Linked DNA regions of Homo sapiens: region 2 is linked to region 1. Evidence: fine-mapped expression QTL. Tissue or cell type: skeletal muscle. Region 1 holds a variant in brackets; the other region holds the start of a gene. All regions are shown on one strand. Distances are from middle to middle.

Region 1 (2,677 bases):
CCCTCCCTCCCGTCCTTGCCGGATCACGCCCCTCAACCCCTCTGGGCCCCCTGACCTCTGCAGGGCCCCAGAGAGCTCAGGGAAGAGCAAGGGACCCTCTTTCCGCAATCAGGGAGGTCTTCTGGGAGGAGACAATGGGCTTCCAGGCCTCTGGAGTTAAGGAAGTATTTGCCAGGTGCTAAGCGGAAAAGAAGATTCTGAGAGGCAGAAACGGCATCTATAAAGGCCCCAGGGTAAAGCTGCAGAGCCTGTTTCTGAAGCAGCCAGGAATCGGGTGTGGTGGGCACTGGGTCACCTGGGGGACACCTGGGGAAAATAAGAATTAGAGACTTGGGGGAGGCGTGGGGAATGGAGGCTTGGAATGCCTAGCTAAGGGGTTTAGATGGCATTCTGGCCATGGTTTTCAAAGTAGGTGTCATGGAACCCTGACGGTGCCAAGGGTGGCCTCAGAGCTACCTGGTGCAGGGGGGTCGGGGGGTGAAATGTGGAGAAAGAGGAGACGCAGGGCTGGAATTCTGGGCCTCTGGCCCCCCTCCAGCCAGAATGACTCCAATCTCACGCGAGTTCTGAACTGTGCTGTCACAAGCATTGGGGGAGCCGTGGTGAGCAACAGGGGCCTTCAGCAGCAGCAAGGGACAGCCCAAATGGCCAAATGGAGCTTTAGGAAGCCAATGGAACTTCAGGGGTCAAGTGGCCCCCCAGCCACCTCTGCTTAGGTTCTCTGGCCTGACCATTTCTTCCCAGGCCACCAGGAGGTAATAATGATAATAATTAATAATAACCTGACCATCACAGCGCCACCAGCTGGGGAACTCGAGAATCCAGGAGAGGAAGAGACGCCAAACGAGGGTCACCAGCCAGTTCGGTGGCACAGCTGGGATACGGACCCAGAATCAGCTCCCCCATGAGGGCCTGGCCCCCCTCGGGCAGCCTGGAGCAGTTGCTGCAGGATCCCATCCCTGGCTGGGGCCTCGTGCCGCCAGCAGCCCCCTCCGCCCACCTGCCCTCCCAGCTGTCCCAGTCACACCCGGCACCCATGTGCCCTGTGGAAATCTGACCAGCCTCGCAGCGCCCTCCAAGGAGACAGCTGACGGATGGGGCTTGGGAGAGTGGGGGTCATGTGGGAAGCAGAGCTCAGGCCAGAAAG[C/T]GGGAGCCGCCCTGGCCGGGCAGGGAGACACTGGCAGTTTCTGCTTGCCGTGTGACCTTGAGCTCCTTGCTGAGCCTCTCAGGGCTGGCAAGGGCTGCTCTGAGCCACCTGGAGCTGGGGCTAAGTACAGGCAACTTGTGGGTTCCCGGGTCCATGGGCTCACACCTGGAACTTGGCACCGGCCTCCATTGGGCACCCCCCAGACCCCCACCCTGTGGGCCAGAATGATGGGATCTGACTGGCTGTGTGAGTCCAGGCTAATGTATCGGCTTGTCTGGGCCTCAGCTTCCTCATCACAAAGTTGAAAGTGTTGGCAGCTGGGGTGCCGTGCAGTAGCCCGGCCCCTCCATTCAGAAGCTTGTCTCAGCAGCCCCACACCTCCCCCAGGCCCTGAAATGCTTCAATGGCCATTTTGTATCAGGCCAGGGAACTGATGTTTGCTCAGCTGCCCCCACCCCTGAGACTTCATGATAATGGACTCCTGCCAGCCCAGGGCCCCTGTGTCTGGGGGTAGGGGTGGGTAGGAAGCCCTCCTCGGCCTGTCTGGGGCATTGCCCTTCCCTTCCTGACCAGTAGGGGTAGGAGGAACATCGAGTCATTTCCTCTCCCATTTCTTTCCAGAAGTTCAGGCCTAAATCTCAGCCTTCCACTGCCCGCAGCTGTGCCGTTCTATGCAAGTCTCCATTGCGCACTCTGCGAGGGCTTAGCATCCATCCAGACCTGGGTTCAAATCCCCACTTGAGGCTGGGTGCAGTGGCTCATGCCCACAATCCGAGCACTCTAGGAGACCAAGGCAGGAGGACTGCTTAGAAGCCAGGAGTTCAAGACCAACCTGGGCAACATAGCAAGCACCCATCTCCACAAAAAATAAAAGATAAACATTTAGCAGGGGCCAGGCACGGTGGCTCATGCCTGTAATCCCAGTACTTTGGGAGGCCGAGACGGGCAGATCACTTGAGGTCAGGAGTTCAAGACCAGCCTGGCCAACATGGTGAAACCCTGTCTCTACTAAAAATACAAAAATTAGTTGGGCATGGTGGCAGGCACCTGCAATCCCAGCTACTCGGGAGGCTGAGGCAGGAGAATTGCTTGAACCCAGTGAGAGGTGACAGCGTGCTGGCAGTCCTCACAGCCCTCACTCGCTCTCGGTGCCTCCTCTGCCTGGGCTCCCACTTTGGCGGCACTTGAGGAGCCCTTTAGCCCACTGCTGCACTGTGGAAGCCCCTTTCTGGGCTGGCCAAGGCCAGAGCCGGCTCCCTCAGCTTGCAGGGAGGTGTGGAGGGAGAGGCGCGAGCGGGGAACCGGGGCTGCGCGCGGCGCTTGCGGGCCAGCTGGAGTTCCGGATGGGTGTGGGCTTGGCGGGCGGGCTTGGCGGATGCACTCGGAGCAGCCGGCCGGCCCCACCGGCCCCGGGCCAGCGGCTGCAGAGGGTGTACTGGGTCCCCCAGCAGTGCCAGCCCACCAGCGCTGCGCTCGATTTCTCACCGGGCCTTAGCTGCCTTCCCGCGGGGCAGGGCTCGGGACCTGCAG
Region 2 (2,677 bases), 63 kb after region 1:
AACTCCTGGCCTCAAGCGATCCACCTGCCTTGGCCTCCCAAAGTGCTAGGATTACAGGTGTGAGCCACTGAACCTGGCCATCAGGGAGTCATTTCCAGAACACCCCAAGTGCTCTGGTGCTAAGTATTTTTTTTTTTTCTTTTTTTTTTTGACACGGAGTCTCGCTCTGTCGCCCAGGCTGGAGTGCAGTGGCGCGATCTCGGCTCACTGCAAGCTCCGCCTCCCGGGTTCACGCCATTCTCCTACCTCAGCTTCCGGAGTAGCTGGGACTACAGGCGCCCACCACCATGCCTGGCTACTTTTTTTTGTATTTTTAGTAGAGACGGGGTTTCACCGTGTTAGCCAGGATGGTCTCGATCTCCTGACCTTGTGATCCGCCCGTCTCGGCCTCCCAAAGTGCTGGGATTACAGGCGTGAGCCACCGCGCCCGGCCTAGTGCTAAGTACTTTACAGGCATGACCACACCGCATCTAGAGACCATCAACTGCAGGAAGTGGGTCCCATGATTCTCCCTGTATCTACAGGTGAATAGACGGAGGCTCAGATGGGCGATGGCGGATGAGAAGCGGATGTGCGACTGAACCCAGGTCGGCTTGACACCAGAGCAGATCCTCTTAGCCACAGCAGAGAACAGCTCAGACCACTTCTGGAGCTACCTAGTCCTCCAGGGGGTGCACCCGGTCCCTGGCAAGAACATCAGAGGCCAGGCGAGTGGCCAGCGCGGCTGCGTTCATCGGGTAGAGAAGACCCCCAGTCCCCAGCGGGCCGTGAAAGCCGTGGCCCAGGGCTTGCTGCAAGCCTGGGAGTCGTTGGGTAACAGTTGCCAGGAGCTTCCCCTACGAACCCCGAGTCTGGCCAGCACTCCGGGGAAATCCCCCGACCCCTCCGGGAATCGGACCCGGTCCCAGCGCCCCTTCCTCAGGCCCCGGGTCCCTAGCATCCCTACATCTCCAGCGCTTGTTCCTCCACGCGCCCCTCTCTCGGGGCCCCTGCCCCTGCGGCTTCAGTGCTGAGAAGTCCCAGGTTCGGTCTCTCAGCTCCCGGCTCCTCCGCCCTGGCCCCGGGCTCCCTCCCGGGCCGCACCCCAGCCACAGCGCCCCCTCGCGCCCCGCTACCCGCCGAGCCGCGCGGGTCCGAGGGGCGTGCGTACCTTACTGTCGGCGCGCGTGGGGCGGCCGCTCAGCAGCAGCACTAGCGGCAGAAGGAGCAGCGGCCGGGGCGGGAGGGCGGCAGCGGCCATGGCGCCACGGGCACGGTAGGCACAGGCGGCCGGGCACGGACGCTGGGAAGCGCGGGCTGCACTGCGAGCTCCGCGCCTTCGCCCGCTCTGCCTGCCCCGCGCCCCGCGCCTGCACCCTGCTGCCAGCCCCGCGGGTCTTCCAGCGCCGCCAGGGGCGGAGCTAGGGCGGAGGGGGCACCCCGCCCCGCCCCGCCCGCCGTTCGCGGGGCCTCCCCGTCGTCGGGCGGCTCTCCCAAGGGCATCCCTGCCCGCGCGCCAGGGTGGGTCTCGATCGCAGCCGGCAGGAGCAACGGGGCCAGGGCGAGGCGCGTGGGCTCCTCTCACGGACTCAGGTCCTGTCCTGTGAGTCGTGGGACCTTGGGCGTGTCCCTTCACCTGTGTGCCTCAGTTTCCTCATCTGTAAGATGGGGGACTCGTGCTTTCCTTTTGGAGTGTTTGTAAAGTTCGCATGAGAGACGGATGTTCCCAGGGCACGTGAGCCCTTGCGCTCTCCGATTTCACCCACTTCTGGACAGGGACCTGACTGCTGTAAGCCTTCCCAAGGCTCAGCAACCCCAACCTGTCTTCCGTCTTTCATTTCTCCTTCCCTCTGGAATCCCTCCTGTCGGCTCCCAAACTCCAGTAGCTTCCGGCTTTTAAATTTTTATTTTTCTCACTCTGTTGCCCAGGCCGTAGTGCAGTGGTGCGATCCCAGCTCACTACAGCCTTGACCTTCCCAGCTCAAGTGATCCTCCCACCTCAGCCTCCTGAGTAGCTGAAACTACAGGTGTGCACCACTACACCTGGCTAATTTAAAGTTTTTTTTTTTTTTGCAGAGACGGGGTCTCACTCTGTTGCCTAGACTGGTCTTGAACTTCTGGGCTCAAGCAATCCTCCCACCTTGGCCTCCGAAAGTGTTGAGATTACAGGCATGAGCCACTGCACCCAGCATTTCCTTTTTTTTTTTTGACTGGGTCTTCCTTTGTCACCCAGGCTGGAGTGCTGTGTTGCGAATACAGCTCACTGTATCGTCAACTTTCCAGCTCAAGCTATCCTCCTCCCTCAGCCTTCTGAATAACTTGGACTACAGGCATGTGCCACCATGCTGGCTAATTTCTGTATTTATTTTAGGGATGGGGTCTTCTGTGTTGCCCAGGCTCTCAAACTCCCGGGCTCAAGCAATCCAGCCACCCTAGTCTCTCAAAGTGTTGGGATTACAAGTGTGAGCCACCATGCTTGGTCTCATTTTCTTCATAGAATTTATTGCTCAATGGGACTGTCTTTCTTGTTGGTGTGTTTGTTTCCTTGTGTTGGAGCATGACTTCCTAGGGCACATTCTTAGTTTCTCCCCATGAACATTGAACTCAGTGGTTCTCAAAGTGTGGTCCTTGGTCTCAGCCTCCGCATCATCGGATAACTTGTTAAAAATGCAAACTCTCCCAGCCTGGGCAACATGGT

What was found. PIP is the estimated chance that this variant, and not a neighbour inherited with it, causes the effect.
Region 2: OLFML2A starts here. The variant in region 1 is fine-mapped to the expression of OLFML2A in skeletal muscle (GTEx, PIP 0.98).

The regions. Positions count from the first base shown.
Region 1 is chr9:124,838,856-124,841,532 of GRCh38, reverse strand. No RefSeq gene overlaps it. Among named protein-coding and RNA genes, the nearest start is that of WDR38, 13 kb to the left of the region's middle. RefSeq lists enhancers at 575-1,177, 1,178-1,781. The variant C/T (reference allele first, on the strand shown) is at 1,148.
Region 2 is chr9:124,775,834-124,778,510 of GRCh38, reverse strand. It overlaps OLFML2A (olfactomedin like 2A), which reads right to left and starts at 1,378. Exons shown (of 8, transcript NM_182487.4): 1 at 1,151-1,378. The coding sequence starts at 1,240. RefSeq lists silencers at 1,005-1,304, 1,375-1,474.